3 linked regions of the Homo sapiens genome follow. The protein of the gene in region 2 binds, or shares a complex with, the protein of the main gene of each other region. Each region holds a gene or a part of one and is shown on either strand. Other genes may lie near its edges.

Region 1 (5,969 bases), on a different chromosome or scaffold from region 2:
ATTTCAGTTGCTGTACTTTTCAGCTACAGAATTTCTTGTTGGTTTTTCAGGTTGTCTGCCTCATTATGATCCTTGCATTTGGTTCTATTTTCATTCTCTTGACTTTCTGCACATGTTCTTTGGCTTCCGTGAGCATCTTTAACACAGTTATTTAAAAGTATTTGTCTAGTGTACCTGCCAACAGATCCTTTTCAAGGACAGTTTGTTTTTATTTTTTTCCCTTTAAATGGGCCATACTTTGCCATTTCTTGGTATGCCTTGTCACTGTTTGTTGAAAACTGGACATCTGAATCTATTACTGTGGTACAACTCTGAAAAGAAGTCTCCTGTTCCCCCGGATTTGCCATTTTTGTTATTGCTGTGTTTATTGCTTTTTTGACAGCTCTAGGCTGTACCTGTGCCATGGTTCAGCCTGAGGTGTAAACGTAAGGTCTTCTCGGGTCTTTTCTGAGCCTCTCCCTGGGCAGCCCCATATATACAACACAGTTGTTTTTATACGTCCTAGTCTTCAATGTCTGGCTCCCAAAAGGGGAAAGAGAAAAATGAAGGAACAGAGGTCGGGGTAGAAAGCTGAAATGGACCAAAATTAACTGCAATGTGCTGACCAAGCCTCCCTTGAAAGCTTTAAGCCTTCAGTAGATTCCGTAGTTACAGAACAGCTGCATCAGGCAGATCCTGCCCGCGAGGTAGACATCTACCTGGGCAGCCAGATTCCTGGTGCTCCCTATTCCACCATCTTCCCAGAATCCTCTCAATCTTATTCTTGTTCTCAAAGTCAAACTTTTAAATTTTGTCTCAATTTTCATTGTGAAAAAAGGCCAAGGAACTTGGCTTATCTTTCTCTGCACCACAGGCACCGAAAAGGAAGGTGCCTCTTTGCCCTGTGTCCACCAAGACCTCCACCCTTGGCCACCTTCCACCTTTTCAGGGTGGGCTCCCGGAGGATGTGCCTCAGACAACATGTGGTGGTGGGGTTTGCACCCACAGGGACCACCCGGGCCCACCGCGTCTGGGCCTAACAACCTACTTTCTCACTCAAGTATAAAGTAAAACCAACAAGACAGACAAATTTCTAGATAATAATCCTGAATTAGAGAAACACAGCTTGTTTAAAATGCCCATGCGCGTTTTATTAATAAAAACTAACAGTGCCAAGTTAAACAAGTCAAACAATTAAAGTCTCTTTATATACCATAAAATATTACAGAAAAGTTTATTTGTGTTTCAATAAAAAGACTATCGTTTTAGAACAGGCAGCTAATAGCAACTGTGCAGTTAATGGGTTTTGTGAATAAATTTTAAAAGAGACTACTGCCTGTCCTTAAATTCCTTTTTCTTTTTATAAAAAAAGAACTATTAAAAATGATTGACAAATTTTGAGTTAAAAAATTGTTAAAACATTCTCTATATTTAATTTCAATTTTATAATAGATTACAGGAAGATGCTTATGAAACAAATACATTTGTTTCAGTACATGTCTTTAAATGATAGACTTATAAGTATGTAAACAACTATATAATAAAAGGTTTCCAAACGCTGCCTGTAAGAAATCAGGCAAATTTTACCATAAGCAATAAACCATTCCAAGCCTTCCAGACAGTCTCCATAGCCGCACCAGCATGGCAATAAGCTTTAACCAAACGAAAACAAACAAACAAAAGCACTTCGCAATTTGTTGCTGCAAAACAGGGAGAGAAAAGAGTGTACAAACTTGATGGAATCACAACAGTCAATATAATTTAAGGGACAATAAAGTCAATAAGGTTGATGGTGTTTATTGTTTAAAAAGTTGAATTCTGCTGTTTGCTTGGGGCTGTTTAGAAAGTTGCATTCTGCTGTTTGCTTGGACACCGTACCACTGAACAAACTCCACAGAGTCTTGCTATCCGCCAGCAGGGGTGCCGTCCAAACTCACGGCAAATAAGCGGCATCAGGGGCTCACCATCCACAACAGGAGGTGTTTTATTTTCATGGATGTGGTTGAAATACAATTTCTTCAGCAAACTCAGCAAAAACTTTTCAGGGGCAAAAATGAACTCTGCACTTAAAGAAAAATAGCAAATGAAAACACAAAATCCTAACAAGTAAATAAACGCTCTGCATCAGCACACTGGTATCAAAACACACATCCACAGCACGTCCTAATCCTACGGGAAACAATCCTTGCTTATCAGAGGTGCATATCTAAATTCAATAGCTTACCAATATCTTCTTGGGAGTAGGCCAAAAGGAAACAGAAAACCCACATTAAAAAAAAAGTTTCTTTTCGCTAAACGTTTTCCTGAAGCCGAATCTGAAGTGGGGAGGACGTCAGTCGTCCTCGTCATTCTCGTTGAAGTCATCGTCCTCCTCGTCGTCCTCCCCGACGTAGGACACCGGAGTCTCCACCCTGGAGCCGCTGTACTGAGACCCATTGGAGCTTGTGGCCAGCATCCCATCTGCACCGTTGGTCAGGTCACTGCAAGGCAGGAGGCGGATGGCGCCGTCAGTGCAGGCGGCCCACCCAGCCTCCCCCCGCCTCAGGGCTTGTGGTCAAATGACAGGCTGTGCCCCACAGGTGTGGGTTTTGTCAGTCACACAAACAGAACGGGGAGGCTGAGTGTCTGCACTACAGCACGCCAACGCTCTGGCACTTACTCCATCTCTGTCTGGTTCTCTTCTGGCCCTGTCTCCTGGAACCCATAACGACAGAAACAGGAGGCTGAGCAGAGCCACACGCTGCCTCTCCCTCACTCATCATTCCATCAGGAGCAGTGCCCCAGAGGGAACAAACTGTAAAACCATTAGATCCCTCCCTCCGGGACTTTCACTCATAACCAGCAACAGGAAAAAAGAGAGCCCGGGGCAGGACAGGATGGAGTCCAGAGCGTGGGTCGAATCTGGCAGCGGGGACTGAGAACCCAGAGGGCTGGCAGCACCACAAAAACCTACCACCAACCAGAGCTCACTACGTTCCTAATGTTTAAAGATGTTTTCAATTAACATAAAACCATATGTACATATTTTAATACATTTTAATGGTATTTATTAACACTACAATAAAAATGTGTTAATGTGCCTTTTGATGAAGTAATTCTGTATCTTGGAAACAAGTCAGAAATGGCGAGAAATTCAGCTGTAAAGCTGCTCACTGCAGTTTTTATTCTAACTGGGAACTACCTAGATGTCCTTTCATGAGGTACTTGTATAAAATGTCTCATCATGCCACTATGAAAATCGGTATTTCGTAAGAAATGGTAATAGCTTTGTTTCCATTGTTATGAAAAACTGACAAGTCTGAAGAATCACATCCATAAAAAGGATTATGTGATGATAAAAGTCCTAAAAATACCCACATCCCACCTCATGGAAGAAGCAGCATTAAACATGTTTACAGACTGACCGCCACACGTTCACACATAGCTACAACAGAAGGAGAACCGGCCTCTGTCAAAAGCTTGTCACCAAAGTCCTTTCTTCCATCACCACCTCACTGATCCTTGCCACAGATCAGTAACTCATCAATCACCAGTCTCACCTTACAGGTGAGGAGGCCAAGGCTGGCTTTGCACTTCCAGAGCTGGCCAGGAAGCTACACGTGCCCGACACACCTGTTACATCTCATGGCCACAGCACATCCCAACGCAGGCTCAAGCACACTGAAACTCACTATGTCGAGCCCTGTTACCCGGACCCATAGGTTACTGAGTTCTTGTATTTCTAATTAAAGATTTTATTAACACTTAAGATTAATATAAAGTAATACTATATATTGTATCACAATGCAATATAAAAGTTAATAAAATCATTGTTTTGTTAATATTTACCATAAAAGTTATATTTATCTTTGAAGCACTAAGATCAATACCTAGGGACACCATTCTACTCTGTGGGATTGCAGGTCAAAGATTAAATACAAATTTATTTAAATAAAGGCCCTTTAATAGCATAGAAACAATATATATTCATACAATAAAATGTAAGCTGAAAAATGCACGGAACAAAATATGTGTGCTGTGACCACAGACGCGTTCTGAAAAATACGTGCGCTGTGATTGCAGACGCGTTCTGAAAAATACGTGTACCATAATCACAGACGCGTTCGCAAAAATACATGCACTGTGATCGCAGCACGTGCGCCGAGACCGCAGACGCGTTCTGAAAAACACGTGCGCCGTGATGGCAGACGTTCTGAAAAATACATGCGCTATGACCATAGATGCATTCTGAAAAACACATGCACCATGACCGCAGATGCGTTCTGAAAAATGTGTGCTGTGATCGCAGACACGTTCTGAAAACTACTTGCGCCCAGACCGCAGACGCGTTCTGAAAAATACGTGCGCTGTGACCGCAGACGCGTTCTGAAAAATGGGAAAAAAAACCTGGAAATACTTGCTGTTACTTGGGCTGCCGGGGACAGGAGGATTTGGGTGGTTTTCATTCCTACTTTACTTATTAGGTGATACTATGAAAAAAAAACCACCATGTATTACTTTCAGTTTTTAGTGAGCAGAAACCAACTAAGAAAAGCAGCTCTCCACACAGGGAAAGCCAGCGGGGCCCCACTGCCTGGACAGACAAGCCACGTCAGAGCAGCCACAGACCTGATGGCCACACCTGAGACGGCTGCCCTGCCTTGGCCCCTGGACCCCGGGGGAGGCCCAGATGACGCCTCTCCCACACCCTCAACGACTGTCACCTGGCAGAGAACCTTGTGCCGTTAGACGTGGAACCTGCCGTCGTGATGAACACGCCTCCAACAGTTCCCTGAGCCATTTCTGAAAAGGGAAAGAAAATAAGCGAATGGTCATGAAACAGAAACAACACAAGACGCACAGGCAACCAACAAAATGACGCGCAGTTCCACAGGACAGACGGCTGTAGAAGCTTCCGGATATCCTTCGCTTGTCCAGTATTTTCCACACTGCGCCACGGAGCAGGACATCCCGCTGTGCAGTCACATAAGCCTGTCTTCTCTAAAAAGGCAAGAACAGCCTTGCAATAAATACCTGCACACACTGACTTACAAACGGCACACGTGTGCTGCTGCCTCAGTATCATACCCATCGTGAAACGGAACCGAATCAAAGTGTCAAGCTGAAACCCTCTTCCCACAGCCCATCCTGGCAGCTCCATGAAGCACGGGACAGAGGCCGGGGTCAGGGCCCAGCCCACGTGGGCGGCCAGAGCCCACTGTCACCTGACAACATGGACCAGCCAGATTTTCACAAGATCTGGGGCAGTCTAAGAGCTCAGGGAGGAATCTCTGACCCTCTCAGGGAATAAATCTACACCCCAAGTTTAGGCTAACAAGAGAAGGATCAGCAGATATGACACCTTCACAATTTCTCACCTTAAAGCCATCCTGCTGTCAGTGGCTGGGACCCTACGGCCCCCAAGGAAAGAATTCACCAGAACAGAAAAAAAGCTCCTTCAACAAAAGCTCCTGTGCTCCCGGCCCTCCGGAGCAGGACGCCAATGACTCTGAAATGCTTTTTCTTGGTGACTTTGCCCTAGTGACCAATCAGCTACCATCAGTGGGTGGGATCAGCAATCCAACTGCACTTCTCAAAGAATCTCAACTTCTACTTCTGGGCCTACTTGGAGGGTAAAATCCTGACTTAGCACCTCCTCACACAAACCACATAGGAAATCCACACGAGCCACCTGTGGACTCAAGGCCCCCATATCCAGTGGGTCACGGCACTGGCTGGACCCCACCCCAGCCACACCCCTGCCCTCATCCCCCTCACAGCCCCTTTGTCTTTGCTCCTGGCCCTACACACGTGGGCCTGATCTCAGCAAGACACATCCCGAGCCGGGAGGGGAGGGCACCGTCGGAGGCTGGGGGCCATTCCTCACACAGCCACGCCAGGTTGTCTGGGCATTGCTGACCTGTCACGTATGGCTCCAGAGCCTTGGGGACCAGACTTCTGGCCATTTTAAGGTCTTCGGCAGAGCAGCTCCCCGACTCCAGCCCGCAAGC
Region 2 (8,470 bases):
TCTCTGAGCTTCATTTACTTATAGGGTTACTGTGAAGATAGTTATGAGGTATGCTGTAACTCAAAGTTATTTTCCTGTTTATCTAAATTAGCTTCTCCTCCTGATTTCTCTGTGGTTTTACGGCATCCGATAGTCTACTAAATGGCCAGGCGTGGTGGCTAACGCCTGTAACCTCAACACTTTGGGAGGGTGAGGCAGGTAGATCGCCTGAGCTCAGGAGTTTGAGACCAGCCTGGCCAACATGGTGAAACCCTGTCTCTACCAAAAATACAAAAAATTAACCGAGCGTGGGGGCCCAAGCCTGTGGTCCCAGCTACTCACCAGGCTAAGGTGGGATTATCACTTGAGCCTGGGAGGCGGAGGTTGCAGTGAGCTGAGATCCACTGCACCCTAACCTGGGTGACAGAGTGAGAACCCATCTCATTTAAAAAAAAAAAAATTCTATCAAACACCAGGGCTTACAATTGTATTATCTTTGACATCTCTCTTTCCATAGAAATATTAATCTGTCATATATCATGCAGATTACACCTTCACCATGACTCTATCCTCCTGTAACCAATTGTGTCTAAATCTCCAACTCCTGAAGCCTACTATGGTGTTTTTACCTCCATCTCCCCTTACCTACAATGCATTCTACATAAAAGCTACATGTACAAGATTTATCTTCTGAAGTATATCTCTGAGATTGTCATTATCCTACACTAAGTTACATTTTCTGTAACTCTTAAGGCCTTCTGCAGCAAGACCCCACTGAATTGATCCTTCCAACTTCACCTCCAGTGATTCTTAAATTGAAAGTTCCCTGAAGTAATGATATTGAGGTTATTTTATCCACTATCCCTAGCATACTATATGACACCTAATAGACACCCAATAATAATGTTTGAAAAAGTAGTGAAAATCGGCCGGGCGCAGTGGCTCACGCCTGTAATCCCAGCACTTTGGGAGGCCGAGGTGGGTGGATCACGAGGTCAGGAGATGGAGACCTTCCTGGCTAACATGGTGAAACCCCGTCTCTACTAAAAATACAAATAAAATTAGCCCGGCGTGGTGGCGGGCGCCTGTAGTCCCAGCTACTCAGGGGGCTGAGGCAGGAGAATGGCGTGAACCCAGGACGCGGAGCTTGCAGGGAGCCAAGATCGCGCCACTGCACTCTAGCCTGCGCCACTGCACTCTAGCCTGGGCGACAGAGTGAAACTCTGCCTTGGAAAAAAATAAAGAAAAAGTAGTGAAAATCTATAATACTCTTCCCCCAAAAAATGAACACTGGACTATCTCTGGTGGTATAATTCTTGCTTCATTTCTAACACACTTTTAATTATTAATACACAATTGTTCTAACCAGGACAATCTGAAAACTGGTCTTTAAAGACAATCACAAAGAATCACAAAGAGACAATAGCCCTCTGTGATTAAAAGAAAGCCAATGAAAAAGCTTTTTAATCTCCCTATTTTAATTATTTTTAAAATTCTTAGTCTTACTACTGAGTCAGCAGCTATAAGGCATGGGTCAAATAACTGCAACATAAAAACTGTAATTTTAAAAAGACAAAACCAAATACCTACTGAATAATACAGCATCAGACAAATTATTTTTAAAAAATAATCATTATCGTCATCATTAAACCTTCTGAGTACCTCTAAGGTATTTCTCCTAAAAATTTTTTTGGGTCTCTTATTCTTCTAGTAAGTGAAAGCCAGACCTACAAACTATACACACCTATTCACACAAAATATTTCCCCTCTAAGTAAACTACAAAATTTGTGATATATGACACACTATGGCACAGTGTGTTACATATACTCTTTGTAGACAATTTGAATAAGGAAATAATATCACATATACTCTCTGTAGACAATTTGAATACGGAAATTTAGGGCTAATCATAAACATTACCCATGGGCATTCCTCAATACTAATCCTTCTGTTCATTATACACTCAATGTCATTGACCCAAAAAAGCTGGGGGAAAAGCATAGGGTCCAAATTAATGTATAAAAATTTTTTTGCCCAGCCTAAAAATTTGATTCACATGTAACTTTTCTGTAACACTAGTGTTGTGTGCAAGGAGACAGACTCCTTACGGATCTTTCAGCATAACCTAAAACTTAACATGGGTCTTCAGATAACCTAATAAAACAGTGGCTGTTATAGTCAATCAATCCAGCTCTCTAAACAAAGGGCTAGGCTAATCACTCCAGCATTTAGTGATTTAGAAATAACAGAGGTCTCAATTTATTTTTCCCAACTTAATGTACTCACAACAAATGCTTGCATCACCCCATCGCAACTCTCCTTCTTAACAATGAAGGTAAAACTCAGGACCAAAAGAGAGCTCCTAGAGCTGTATTTCATTTGCATTATAAAATCTACAGCAAAATTTTTCATAACTTTACTCTCTGAATTCATGAACTAGGTTGGCGGGGGCAGGAGGGTGAGTATAGAGAAGAACTTCCCTGAAAAGCATGAGTATAAAATATAACTGAGAGTATCTCAATTGTTATATGCCAAATGGCAGGGGCAAAGAGGTTAGTTACTCTAAGGATAACAGAGCATTAAAAATTTTTTTTCTAATTCTTACAAAACTGGTCCCTATTCTATAAAATGTGAACATCCACAACCCAACAAGTTACAGACTAGGATCTAAGACACAGATCTTAAATGCAGATAAAATGCCAATGCTCTGCCTCCCTAAAGAAACGTACAACCCCAAGAACTGCTGAACACCATCAAAGCAACACCCGCCAGAGTGGCTGTTTTAAACATTATATCAGGAAATCATGATAAGTGCTAGCGGTTCCTCTAGGCCTCAGCAGCAGCCTTAGGTATAAGAGCAAACTGGAGCCCTCTTAACACTCAAAGAATAATGTTGATGTCATGACGAGGCTACTGATTCTTCGCACTCCGGACAAGTCATTCCTTGATCCACCGCGCAATTCTTTCCCCACCCACCCCCATCCCCCCAAATAAAGAGATCTCCGGACAGAGAAGCCCTCGGGTACCCCATCCTCCTCTACCTCCAGCGGCTGCCGCTTTCTCCTCCCTCGGGCTCCGAGGTAGGGGCTCCAGAAGGTCCTGGGCAATCCCGAGCCCCGGCGGGGCTTGTTTTGCCCGTGCACGATAGCTCTGGCCAGCAGCTTCCTTTCCCAGTTTGTCCAAACTGGAGCGCTCCAGGGTACCCGGGGACCGAGAAGGGAGCCGGGGTGGCGACGTCGCCGTCGCCGCCGCCTCTGGTATGTCAGGGGCCGGGATTGTATTTCGAAAGATCCGCCATTTTCACCTCGTCATCACCATCACAGCTCAGCAGCTTCCCCGACAGCCGGAGCCCGGGCCGCCGCCGCCGCCGCCACCACCAGTAACCTCCCCCTTCCTCCTCCTCCCCTCCCCGCCCGCCCCACCCGGGAGGCGCACACCCACATATCCGGGGAAGCCTCCCGCCGCCCCGCCAACCTTCAAACGCACAAGGGCCGTGCAAGTGCACACGGGCTACGCCGAGACCTTTCACCCCCGGGCGGAGCACGGGCCCCCGCAGGGACGCCAAAGGAAGTCGCGCCACCTGCGGGGTCCCAAGTCCGGCATATTTTTGTTTGCAAGACCAAAAGCCATGCGGAGGGTGGCATAAGGACAATAAAGAACCCAAACTCTTTCATTTTCAGAGCAGCAACTTGAGAGAGATGGTGGAATGCGTTTCATTCACTGTGGCTATCTCAGGCACTAAAAACACTGTGAAAGACCTTTAATGTCATTCACCAACTTTGACATTTTACCCCACCCGCAGAACTACTTTGACAGGATGAGCTATTTCCATATGCATGTTCGACCTTTGACACCTTTGTCAATTACAGGCAGCAATCCTCATGCAGATGAAGTGGTCAAAATATCTAATTTAAAAAAATAAAGTTCTGAGCTATCTTCCTCTCCAACTTAATTTATCTGGTCATTTCTGTCCATGAACACTGCGACTTCCAATCTGTCATCGGTTTAAGACGTCAAAGCGCAACTAGATTTGAAATGATTGAACTAATTGTAGAAACATTCATGAATGATCGATTTCTAAAATATTGAAAATATAACTCTTAGCTAAAATTATTTGCCAAATGTTTTTTTAGGATCTAAGTCATCAAATTAAAAAAAAACCATCTGCTGCTGATATATTTGTTCTGTACAGTAAAAATAAACAGCTTGCTTCAGAACAAGATCCTAGAGCTACCTACTAGGTAGGTAAGAGTTACCAGCTCTTGTCATCAGTCAGTTGAATAAGTAACCAAAAGAGAACAGAGGTAATTCTTAATCATTTAAAAAATAACAAAACATAAGCTGCAAGGCTTCTGAAGAGATCAGCATTAAAAAAAAAAAAAAAGGAAACTGGCTGCCTTTGTCAATTTTAGAAAGAGTTAACCATCCAAAAGCTGAATTCTGTATCATTCAACCACAACATAAGCTCTGGGCAAACTGAATTTCAAGGCTGCGAACAGGGCCACTCTACTGTCTAAGTTAGTGTAGGAAGAGTAAGGTTGAAGTTGAAGTTGAAAAAGTCATTTCATTTCCCTACCTTGTTTCAATGGCAACTCCATATAAAAGTCGGTAGATTCAGCCTTCAACAAGGGCTGTCCACCACCCACCCCAATTGCTGTTTTTATATGCAGACTACCAGATGCTGAGAGTATAAAGTGTTCTCAATTACTTCATCTTTAAACTTCATTTCCCCACTGACGGCCCCGTCCATCCGCACTCTGCTTGGTTGTTTACCGTTGCTGGCCAAGCTAAGTCCCGGCCCGCTCCCTTCCCCCGTGCACCTCGGGAACATTATGACATTTGGCTGGTGGGCTTCGCGAGGAAAACGGACACGCACGAACAAGAGCCTGTACAAAGGGGCATAGGAAGAACGCGGCGGCGGGCAGTAGGGAGAGGAGGGACTGGCACAAAATGACACAGCAGCAAAACCGGTTCCCAGAAACCTGGGGCCGCCACGGGTGGCTTGTTGGGTCGCGCAGTGTGCGTGTCAACAGCCGCAGGAGCCCTTACTCCAGACCGCCGGGCAGGCGGCTGGCCGAGCGCTGGCCCTGCCGGGTGACAGCCACCCTCTCGGGAGCCGACGGGAAGAGACCGAGCCCCAAGGATCCTTCGCCCCCCGCAACCCAGCTTCAGGGAAGGGGCGCGGCGGACCCCGCTGGCGGGTTCCCGCTCCCCGCCAAGGCCCACCGGCCCGGGCTCCCGGAGGGAGCGGTCCAGCGCTCTCCGCCCGCGCAGGCACTCGCAGCGGGGGCCGGTTCCCCCTTCCCGCCAGCCCGCCCAGGAGCCCCCATCCCGGGGGCTGACACTCACCAAAGCCGGCGGCGCCGCCGCCTCCTGGTCGCGCGGCGCTCCCTGGGCTCCCAGCAGCAGCGGCGGCGGCGGCGCCTCCGAGACACAGACCAGGGTTTGTTCAAAATCACGCGCCCAGCCCCATTCCACCGCCGCATCCCATAATACGCTGGGCCCTCCCCGCCCGCGCGCCCCTCTCTGCCCGCCCCTGCGCTCCGCACCCCGCCCCACGGCCGGCTTCCTTCGCTCCGCCTCTTCCGCGGCGCCTCGTCCCTCCCCTTGGCAACCCAAGCCCGCGTCATTCCGCCGGGCTCCGCCAGGGCGCTCCAGTTCCACGTGACGCCGAGTGGCGCCCGGTCAAAGCGATCGCACGGAATGTTCCATCGGACTGAAGCTGATGGGGGGAGGACCCGCATCGCGCTGCGGTTGGGAGAGACCGTCCCTTCGTCTAGCTTTCCTTGTTAGGAAGTCCGGGTTGTAGGTGCGACTTCCAGGATATCCCGCTGTTTGATGTGCTTGAGTGAGGAGGTGATCAGTAGTCACAAATGCCAAGTCACTGTGTTTTTAGGCACTAGTTTTGCAGTGTCGCTAAAAAGCCACAGGGAGATTCATTGAGAGTTAAACTTATTTTGAAAGACGTTTTGCATTTCTTGCAACACGCAGCTAAGACTAACACAGTCAAAATTATTTGTATTTAATCACCTTTTATTTTTTCCCGCGATTTATATGATATCCAAATACGGAGTCGGATGAACAGACGCTGACAGATCATTCTGAGGGGAAAAAAAAATTATTCTGAGAGATTATTATCAACTGCTGTGAGTGCGACAAGCACTACATATACGAAAATAGAAAATACAAGAGTGTAAATGTAAGATGGTGCGATACAGTGTATAATTTGCTAATGGAGTACGGAGGACATACAGGTCAGCATGAGAGACTACCTCGGGAACATAATGGAGGAGGTGAAACAGTGTAGGGGAGGCAGCAGTCACTTTGGAATCAAGCAGTACTGGTATTTAATGGCACCTCCGTTTATTAGTGTATATTGTATAACGTTTATTTTCCTATCCAGCAAATAAAAATAACAAAACTTCCCAGGATTCTGATGGTTAAATAAAATGAAGGGTGTTAAGCAGGTACACAGTCTCTGCCTGAAATGTTAGTTCCCTTGTGCCATAATCAACACCCAGTACCAGCCCAAACACTAATAGTCAGGATTTAACAAGGCAAATGTCATGAAATTAGCAAAGCCTTGAAAATGGGAAGGTCTGTGACATGTGTAAGTAATGTGATAAAGTTGAATGACACAAAGGCTTTGTTGGAGATCAGCATTGTGAGCCCACTTTATGAGGAACCTTGAGAGCTAGTGTGAGAAATCCTCATGGTAAAATGATTGATGGTGCTGTTGGGGCACCACTGGAAGGAAGAAAAGAATGAGATGGGGTACCCAAAACTGGCTAGATTTTAGAGAGACCAAAATATCTCAAAAAAAGGAGACCCTTTCCCAGTTTATTCCACAAGGCAGCATAACTCTTATACTAAAACCCAAGACAAACAGTACCCAAAAAAGAGAAGGGAAACTTCCTTTCTTGCTATGATTTTGTTATGAAGGCAAAATTGAGTATTTAGTTGTTATTGGTGCTGTGGCTCACACCTGTAATCGCAGGACTTTGGAAGACTGAGGCAGGAGGATGGGTTGAGACCAGGAGTTTGAGACCAGCCTGGGCAACATAGTGAGATTTCATCTCTACAAAAAAAATTTTTTTAAATAAAAAGAATTAAGAAGTTATCAGACCGGGCGCAGTGGCTCACACCTGTAATCCTGGCACTTTGCGGGGCTGAGGGAGGTGGATCACCTGAGGTCAGGAGTTTGAGACTAGCCTGGCCAACATGGTGAAACACTGTCTCTACTAAAAATACAAAAATTAGCCGGGCGTGGTGGCATGCGCCTGTAGTCCCAGCTACCCAGGAGGCTGAGGCAGGAGAATCACTTGAACCCGGGAGGCAGAGTTTGCAATGAGCCGAGGTCATACTACCGCACTCCAGCCTGGGCAACAGAGTGAGACTCTTTAAAAAAAAAAAAAAAAGATGTTATCAAATTCCAGCAATGTGGTAGTAAAAAGAATTTACATCATGACAAAGTATATGGTTTAACCGAAACAGTGATTTAACATTAAGAAATCTACTAGTGTAATTTATTAGATTGAAGGAGAAAAACCAAATGATAGTCTCTAGAGATACATTGTATAACATTCAATAACCACCCTGAATTTTTTAAATTCTTAGTAAACTAGAAATAAAAGAATGTTTCCTTAATTGGATCAAGATAATCATCAGAGAACAACACCATACATTTCAGTGAAATGGCAGAGGCTTTCACCTTAAAATCAGAAACTCAATAAGGAGGCAGGGATATAGTAGCTGTTTACCGTTTTTGAGTGTGTCCTAGCTAAGTTAAATAAGAAAAAATGAAAGAAGAGGTATAATATAAAGGAAGAAGGAGACTAAATGGTCCTTATTAAAAATAATCAGGCCAGGCACAGTGGCTCATGCCTGTAATCCCAGCCCTTTGGGAGGCCGAAGCAGGTGGATCACAAGGTCAGGGGTTCGAGACCAGCCTGACCAACATAGTGAAACCCCGTCTCTACTAAAAATACAAAAATTAGCTGGGCGTGGTGGCGGGCACCTGTAATCCCAGCTACTCAGGAGGCTGAGGCAGGAGAATTGCTTGAACCCAGGAGGCGGAGGTTGCAGTGAGCCGAGATCGCGCCACTGCACTCTAGCCTGGGCGACAGAGCGAGACTCCCGTCTCAAAACAATAAACAATAAAAAAAAATAATAATCATAGGGGCCAGGCGCGGTGGCTCACACCTGTAATCCCAACACTTTCAGAGGCCGAGGCAGGTGGGTCACGAGGTCAGGAGTTCAAGACCAGCCTGGCCAACATGGTGAAACCCCATCTCCACTAAAAATATAAAAATTAGCCAGGTGTGGTGGCCGGCGCCTATAATCCCAGCTACTCGGGAGGCTGAAGCAGGAGAATAGCTTGAATCCGGGAGGCAGAGGTTGCAGTGAGCTAAGATCACACCATTGCACTCCAGCCTGGGACAGAGCAAGATTCTGTCTAAAAATAAAAATAAAAATAAATGAAAATAAAAA
Region 3 (8,464 bases), on a different chromosome or scaffold from region 2:
CAGTCATACAAGGTCAGGAAGAGGTCGTTGAAACTGGCTGTGCTGGAACCCAGACACAGGAGGACCACAAGCCTGGTTCCCAGACCCAAGGAGAATTAGGCATTGCCAGTCACCCCCAGAGGAAGTAACCTGAAATTAGTCACCACAGGAGACAGGGACACAAGACCTACAGAAGAAGACTCGTGGTCAACATGTCTGCTGTGGCCATACTTCAAGACGGGCTACCAGGGCAATTGAGACACCAGTGGATGTGGATCTGGGGGAGAAAACTGCCACCAGCAATGGCTCTTCCCACAGTCAGAGGTTCCCTGTTAAAAAGGGCCCATTCAGGCAGGCATGGTGGTTCAAGCCTGTAATCCCAGCACTACAGGAGGCCGAGGCAGGCAGATCATTTGAGGTCAGGAGTTCGAAACCAGCCTGGCCAACATGGTGAAACCCCATCTCTATTAGAAGTACGAGAATTAGCTGCGCATGGTGGGCGCCTGTAATCCCAGCTACTCAGGAGGCTAAGGCAGGAAAATTTCTTGAGCTTGGGAGGCAGAGGTTGCAGTGAGCCAAGATCGCGCCATTGCACACTCCAGCCTGGGGGACACAGTGAGACTCCGTCTCAAAAACAAAAACAAAAAAGGCTCATTCATTACCATAGCAAGGGAAGGCTAGGTGGTCAGGAAAAGGACAATCCCCAACCTGAAGAGTCTCTTCCAACTCTGAGCATGGTGTTCCACAACACAGAGATACTACCTCTTGGGCCTCTGTCACAAGCTCCCATGGTGCCTCACCTGTGATCTCAGCTGCTGGGCCAGCCATTCCCTGGACTTCTGCACTGCCAGGGACAGCAGTGGGAGTGAGCTGAGGACTATTTGGACGTGAGGCTTCCTGGGACTGGGCTAGGGCAGGCTTGGGCAGAGGTGGAGGTGTAGAAACAGCAGATGGGCTCTGGAGCAAATCTTCAGGTGGTGGCACAGGCACAGCCACAGGGGGTGAGCTCCATGCCTCCTTGTTCACCAGCAGAACCTCAATGGGACCACTCACACTCTTCAGGTGAATCTGGTACTTCTTCTGCCCATTGAGACCCTAGAGATGGGTGGTAAGGGATGGGAGATGGGTAGAATTGTAAGCAGGCTTGGCTCCTGCCCGACTCCGGGTCAGGACCACAGTGTCCTCTCCCACCCAGGATGCCCATCCTCCTAGATAACCCCAAACTCCAGGCCTCCCCCTACTTGCCCCACCCAGGACTTATCAGGCTCCACAGCCAGCACCCGCCCTCAGCTGACCCCGCCTGCCTGGGCTAAGCACCCACCTCTGGGATGGGCACCTCCAGGCTGGTGCCTGATGGGGCCCGGATGGCCAAGAGGGTATCTCCTAGAATGACATGGAGAATGGGTCAGAGCCCATGGGCTCAATCTGAGCTGGGAACAGAGGTGCCTGCCTTTTGGAGCAAGGCAGGAGATCACGGTCCCTGAGGAACTAGACAGTGGGCCTCACCCATCCCCCATAGTGGCCAGGCAGAGCTAAAGCTCTTCTCTTCCTGAGAGCCCAGGGTCAGTAACCAGGAAATCTGGGTTCAATTATGTGGAGTGAAAGATCACTGGCCACAGGCACCTCATTCCTCTACCGATGGCTGATCCCTAGGTGAGGGTGTTCTAGCCAAGGCCAACATCCCTTTCCCATGACCAGTCAGGAGCATACAAGATGGAGAAGAAACACATCAGCGGGGCACAGTGGCTCACACCCATAATCCCAGCACTTTAGGGGGTTGAGGAGGGAAGACAGCTTGAGCTCAGGAGTTCAAGACCAGCCTGGGCAACACAGCAAGAGCCCATCTCTTAAAAAGAAAAAAAAAGGAACAGATCCTGTATTCACAATGCAACTAAACTAACAAGTTGGAAGTGGGCACCCCCATGCCCTGCATGTAAGAGCCTGCACACAAGCAAATACACACATATCCTCTCTCCCTCTCTCCCCCTTGTGCCTCTATCATACCCAAGAAGCCAAATCCAGGAAACAGTAGAGATGGGAACAGACCCAGGGACCCACTCCAGAATTTCTGTACCCTTTTGGTATAGCTGACCTCCACAGGGTCCCAGTGACACTCAGACAGAAGACTTACCCTGCCTGGTTCCTCTCTGAGCAGGCCCCAGAAACCCTCTTAAGAGACAGAACTCTCCTAAGACACTGAGCCCAGTGCTCAGGACTTTGGCTGAGCCCAGCCCACCCCCTTACCCCTACCCAGGCTCTGCTCACCAGCAAAGCATCTGCAGATGTCCTCATGAGTGACGTAGGCCAAAGTGTGAGGGTTAAGGAGAATGGCTGATGCCCTATGGTGACAGATGGCAGACTACAGAAAAGACCCAATTCTTTAGCTAAGGTCTGACACACAGGCCCTCAGAGACCGTTCTGGGGACTCAGGTCCACCGGGGGAGGGATCACAGGCTAAGAGTGGAAGGGGAGGGGCTCTGAGGAGGGAGCCTGAGGCTGGGCCATGGCCAGTGGCTATAAGACAAACTCCCAAGAGGAACAGGACTCAGGGCAAGTTGAACCAGAGGGCCCCTTGCCCACTCCCCCCAGCAGGGACCGCCAGGAGGATATCAGCTGTTCTGCACGTCCTCTGTGACGTTCCGGATGCTCTGCTGCACCCACACCTTGTGCTGGTCTAGTTCTTGCTCCCGCTGCTGCAGCTCCTCGATCTCTGCCTTGAGCTCAATCAGTTTGTCAGCAATCTCCCGGGTATTGCAGCCAGGCCCCACACCCCTGAGCCCAGGGAGTGGGGCTGAGAGGGACTGCTGAGAACTCTGGGTCCCATGGCCCCTGCCTTCTTCGGCACCCTCCACCCCACGCCCGACACTTCTGGGTGGGAGACTCTACTACCCTCCCACTATGCCCACTCACTTCCACTGGATGCTGTTCTTGGACTTTTTCTCGATTAGCCCGATACCTTCCAAAACATTGGTAATGTCGTAAATCCGCCGCTTCTGGCGTACAGCTAGGGTGTCAGCTGCCTGGCAGAGAGAATGGAGAATGCTCAGCCCCACTCTGGGGTGTACCCCCAGCCACCCTGAGACGTGGTCTGGGAAGGGAGTAATCTGGATTCCAACCCTGTAGTGCCTCCCAGGCGCTACTGCAGCTCAGGACCGCAGCTCTGTCCCATAGGCAGCTCTTCTCCTCGCCAGCCAGGAAGGGCCACGAGGACGAACACCTGCAGCCCGAGCCTGGCCCATAGCTGTAGCTCGATGGCCTCGGCCGAATGAATGAAACATCCCCCGGCTTCTCTCCTGTGAGAAAGCACACGATGGCGGCCGGCTCTCGGAGGACCCAGCTGGGCCGCCCCCGGGGTTCCCGCTACCGGCCCAGGCCTGGTCCACCAGCCTCCCTTGTCTCCCCTTAGCCCAGGCCGCACCAGCTTGAGGTCAAGCACGCCGTCCTTGGCCTCCTGCAGAAGGGACACGAACTTGGTGGTGAGCAGTCCCAGGCTCTTTTCGTGCCGGCTTGGAGTGCCCGGGGGCGGCGGCGCCTGTGGCCCGGCCTCCGCCATCGCGCCCGCCCGCCGCCTCCCCTCAGCCAGGCCAGGCCAGGCCGGCGCCGCCGCCACTTCCGCTTCCGTTCCTGGCCGCCGGGCAGCCGGAGCCAGCGTTACTGCTTCCGCTTCCGTCCCGTGCGCCTTCCAGGGAACGTGGCGCTATTGCTGTCTGTGGGTGCAGCCGCAAAACTTCAGGGACCAGTAGCAAATGTCCAGCCTCCGAATAAGACGAAAACTACCTGGGTAGACCGGGGAGTTGGGATGAAGTTGGGGAGGAATGAGAAGGGCGTCAGTGGGCCGCCCTGGCAGTAGAGAAGGGGACGCCATCGGAACTTTCCTTGCCAATCTGCCCCAACATCACTAACTCTGCCTAGTCCCCATCTTGGGAGAGGAGACCACACTACCTGACTAATCCAATCTGCTCCCTCAAACCTGTTCCTTTTCCATTTTTTTCTCTTTATTTATTCTTTTATATATTTCAAACTCATTTTACTGCCACATCAAACCTGTTCCTAAAGGCTGCCCTACTGTCTTGGGGTCACCCCATCTATTCCTATCCCTCACTTCCTGCCAAACAGCAAGCACTAACTATATCTACCTTGTCCACCTTGTTCCACCCATGGTCCTAGCCTCATCTTTCGCTCGTCTTGTCCTCACAGTACAGTGCTCAGAGACTATGGGGTTATGAACACTTCAGCCAATGCAAACGTGTTTACCTATGTGTAAATATCAGTAAAGCACTCAGTCATTCCTGGCATGCAGGAATGTGTGATACGGTCATTTTGTAACTTTTAACATTGTTACTATTTATTATTGTTTCTTTTAGATCAGGTCCTCTGGGAAATGGGACTCGAGATAGGGTTTTGCAGCAAGTTTGTTGGGGATCCACACTTTTTTTTTTTGAGACAGGGTCTCACTCTGTTGCCCAGGCCGGAGTGCAGTGGCAAGATCAATGCCGTCTCAGCTTCCTGGGCCCAAGCGATTCTCCCACCTCAGCCTCCCAAGTAGCTGGGACCACAGGCATGCACCACCATGCCCGGCTCATTTATTTTTAGTTTTTTAGAGATGTGGGTCTCACTATATTGCCCAGGCTAGTCTTGAACTCGTGGGCTCAAGAGATCCTCCCACCTCAGCCTCCCAGAATGCTGGGATGACCGGTGTGAGCCACCGCACCTGGTCAGGATCCACACCTTTAAGGGATTAAGACAAGCAGAATTGAGCAGATGCAATTATATTATAGGCCTCAGCCTATCCCACTAGGATCTCTGAAATTGGGGTAGCACTTCTGAAGGGTTCATGTTCACACGATGGTACCATGCTTTTGCACCCCAATATTGACTGAGAGACTCAGTGGTGTGATCTCAGTAGCCTACACTCCTGGCAGCTGGAGAATGAGCACTTCTGTCCTGAAGGGTGGATTTGGGTGGTGGACTGAACATCCACTAAATAATTACCACCTTATAGTCCCTTCCCTGGCTCCCTATAACTCTCAAGATAAACACAGCTGCCCAGTTGCGGTGACTCACGCCTGTAATCTCCCAACACTTTGGGAGGCTGAGGCAGGCAGATCGCTTGAGCCCAGAAGGCTGCAGTGAGCTATGGTGGTGCCACTGTACTCCAGCCTTGGTGACAGATCAAGACCCTGTCTAAAACAAAAAAGATAAACACAGCTTTCATGACCCTCTCCTACCACCCCCCACCACACCCCTCTTCACAAGAGCCTGCCACCTCTCACTCCTCCGCAGAGGTACACATCCTCCTCAGAGGCTGGCCAACACAGTTTTCATCCTGTGCTGTTGATGTCGTCTGCATCCATATCTGCACACTCTGCCCACCACCCCAGGTTGAGGCCAAGTCTAGCAAATCCCTATCTCCTCTCCTGAGCACTAAGAGGTTCTGGGTAGGCTGGTCAAGACTGGTTGAGTACAAGTACACCCCACCCCCCCGCCCCTCAGGGAAGTGTCGCCCAGCTGTCCCCACCCTCTGTGCAGACACTCTTTCCTGTTGGGAATAAAATGCCAGAGACTCAGCTTCCTTCCTTTCTGTTGATGGCCTTGGGGAGGGAGGAGCCTCGGTGGGAAGAAGGGGCTTCTGGGTGGGGAGTGGGAGAGAGACTTCCTTGGGGAGAGGAATTCAGCTGCACGCTGGAGTCAGCTGGAGTTGCCCAGGCCCTGTGAGCAAGTGGCAGGCGTGCCCAGCTGCATTGGGGAGAGGGCTGTTCTCAAGGCCAAGGTCATTTTTGGAGGGAGAACTGGACGCCTGATCAAATCTGGTAAGTTCTGTACCAAACTGTCCTGTGCAGCTCAGAGCAGGACCAGGGTCCAGTGGAGGCCTGTGCCCACTCTGTCTCGCTTGACATCTGCAGGGGCACGACTGGGAAACCTAGCAGGCAAAGCCTCCCAGGTGCCCTCCGCATCACACCCGCTCCCTCTCACTTCCCGAGGGGGCCGGGAAGAACCTCCTTCCTCCTCTCAGAAGGGCTTAGACAGAGGCAGCAGCTCACAGGGGCATCTACTCTGCCTGCTTGCCCCGGGCCCACCTCAGCTCTGGCTCCTCCAGGCCCACAATGGACTCAGCAGCCAAGGATGAGATGCAGCCGGCGTTGTCCCCTGGTATGAACCTTTTGGGTGGACTAGGGGAGGAATGATGGCAACAAAGATGGGACTGGCTGGGCGCAGTGGCTCACGCCTGTAATCCCAACACTTTGGGAGGTCAAGATGGGCAGATGACCTGAGGTCAGGAGCTCCAAACCAACCTGGCCAACATAGTGAAACCCCGTCTCTACTAAAAATACAAAAACTAGCTGGGCGTGATGGCACGCGCCTGTAATCCCAGCTCCTCGGGAGACTGAGGCAGGAGAATCGCTTGAACCCGGGAGGCGGAGGTTACAGGGACCCGAGATTGCACCACTGCACTCCAGCCTGGGCAACAGAGCGAGACTCCATCTCAATAAACAAATAAACAAACAAATAAATAAATAAATAAATAAATAAGAAAGCTGGGACTGGGGTCGTTGGGCCCTCCTCCCTGACTACACGGCTGCCCAGGCTCTTCCTTCCCAGGACCTGAGTGGCCAGAGCAGGAGCGGGCAGAGCAGCTGGCCCGGGGTGCAGCGCTCAAGTGGGCCTCAGGCATCTTCTACCGGCCGGAGCAGCTGGCCAGGCTAGGCCAGTACCGCAGCCGCGAGGTGCAGCGTACCTGCTCCCTGGAATCGCGCCTCAAGGTGGGCATGGGGCAGGGGGTGCGGGTGCTGGGACTGTGCTGCAGGGCTGGCCCAGCCTCATGGCTCCATCTTTCCACAGTCAGTGATGCAGTCATACCTGGAAGGCGTGCAGACTGGTGTGTGGCAGCTGGCCCAGGCCATTGAGGTGGTGCAGGGAACCCGGGAGGCCCTGAGCCAGGCCCGTGGGTTGCTCCAGGGCATGTCCCAGGCCTTACAGACTCTAGAGCCCCTACGGGAGCGGGTTGCCCAGCACAAGCAACTGCAGGCCCTGTCTCACCTGCTGCCTCGGCTGCGGGCAGGTGAGCATGCAGGGACCCTGGGCCTCAGCCTCCAATAGTCAGTCCACAAACACCCATCCCTAATCAAGGGGCTGGGGCACTAGATGGGGAACTGCATAGAGCAGCACACCAGGGACCTCCCAGACAGTAGCCCGGGCTTCCCATGGCCTATGAGGCAGCTCATCCTGGGATTCCCACGTGTGGGATGCTTGAGTCAGGACAGACACCCAGTCATGTGACTCTGGCCACCTGGTTATCAGTATATTCAAACTCTTCCCTAACAGAGTGGCTGAGCGAGTACTGGCAGGACCCCCCGATTTCCCCTGCCTTCCCTCCAGGATCCTCAGCTTCCTCATATTCCATGAGTTCATGGGTTGACCTCTGGCCCACCAGGTCTTTAGGACATTGCCAAGATCCTCTTAGATTGGCCAGTACTCTACTGGTTATTTATTTATTTATTTATGGTTTTTTGTTCATTTTTTGTTTTGTTTTGTTTTTGAAACAGAGTCTCACTCTGTCACCCAGGCTGGAGTGCAGTGGTGTGATCTCGGCTCACTGCAACCTCCATATCCCAGGTTCAAGCAATCCTCCTGCCTCAGCCTCCCCAGTAGCTGGGATTACAGGCATGTGCCACCATGCCTGGCTAATTTTTGTATTTTTAGTAGAGATGGGATTTCACCATGTTGGCCGGGCTGGTCTCAAACTCCTGACCTCAAGTGATTCACCCACGTTGGCCTCCCGAAGTGCTGGGATTACAGGCATGAGCCACTGTGCCCAGCTTACTCTACTGGTTGTTAAATATTTTATGCATCACCCCCGCCCTGGGCCTCAGTATCCCCTGCTGTACACATTGAGGCGGTGGGAAGGCTGAGACCCAGGGCCGTCTCCTTTTCACTCTCATTAGTGCCGGCTGCAGTGTCCCACACACAGACTCTGATTGATGGCCAACAGTTCTTGGAGGCATATGTGAGCCTTCGGGAGCTGGAGCAGCTGCGAGAGGATACGTGGGCACCCCTGGGGGGCCTGGAGTTGCCAGTCTTCCAGGGGCTGGACCTTCTGTTCGAGGCACTGGGCCAGGCTGTGGAAGCAGCTGCAGGGGCCGCAGGGAAGCTGGCACGGGAGGACCCAGCCCTGTTGGTGGCTGCTGTGCGTGTGGCGGAGGTGGAGACTGGACGAACAACCCCCCTGGGCCAGGTCCCCCGGGACTGGCGTCAGCGCTGTCTGAGGGCACTACAGGAGGGCCTGGAGCAGGCCCACTTTGGGTCACCTCTGCTGCCTGCACCAGGGGCCCTACCAGGGTGGCTGGAGGCTCTGCGAGTGGCCCTGCCAGTCGAGTTGGCCACAGCTGAGGCACTAGTAGCGCCTTGCTGCCCGCCACAGTACAACGTGGTCCAGCTATGGGCCCACACGCTGCATAGTGGTTTGCGCCGCAGCCTGCAGAACCTC

What was found. Proteins that work in one complex are often made in the same cells at the same time.
Region 1: LIN54 (region 2) and TFDP1 share a complex: the UniProt entries of both Homo sapiens proteins name them as parts of the DREAM complex.
Region 3: LIN54 (region 2) and E2F4 share a complex: the UniProt entries of both Homo sapiens proteins name them as parts of the DREAM complex.

What each region holds. Positions count from the first base shown.
Region 1 is NC_000013.11:113,636,610-113,642,578, reverse strand, and holds the end of TFDP1 (transcription factor Dp-1), read right to left. Parts: coding exon 5,879-5,969; intron 4,960-5,878; coding exon of another isoform or gene 4,762-4,959; coding exon 4,683-4,761; intron 2,460-4,682; coding exon 2,312-2,459; 3' UTR 1,106-2,311; downstream 1-1,105. UniProt on the Homo sapiens protein: Can stimulate E2F-dependent transcription.
Region 2 is NC_000004.12:83,007,463-83,015,932, forward strand, and holds the start of LIN54 (protein lin-54 homolog), read right to left. Parts: upstream 3,362-8,470; 5' UTR 3,022-3,361; intron 1-3,021. UniProt on the Homo sapiens protein: Component of the DREAM complex, a multiprotein complex that can both act as a transcription activator or repressor depending on the context. In G0 phase, the complex binds to more than 800 promoters and is required for repression of E2F target genes.
Region 3 is NC_000016.10:67,187,296-67,195,759, reverse strand, and holds the start of E2F4 (transcription factor E2F4), read right to left. Parts: upstream 3,606-8,464; 5' UTR 3,533-3,605; coding exon 3,398-3,532; intron 3,000-3,397; coding exon 2,890-2,999; intron 2,752-2,889; coding exon 2,590-2,751; intron 2,289-2,589; coding exon 2,245-2,288; intron 1,363-2,244; coding exon 1,301-1,362; intron 1,075-1,300; coding exon 780-1,074; intron 1-779. Other genes in the region: EXOC3L1 (exocyst complex component 3-like protein), read left to right, coding at 6,084-6,129, 6,580-6,740, 6,820-7,039, 7,923-8,464. UniProt on the Homo sapiens protein: Transcription activator that binds DNA cooperatively with DP proteins through the E2 recognition site, 5'-TTTC[CG]CGC-3' found in the promoter region of a number of genes whose products are involved in cell cycle regulation or in DNA replication.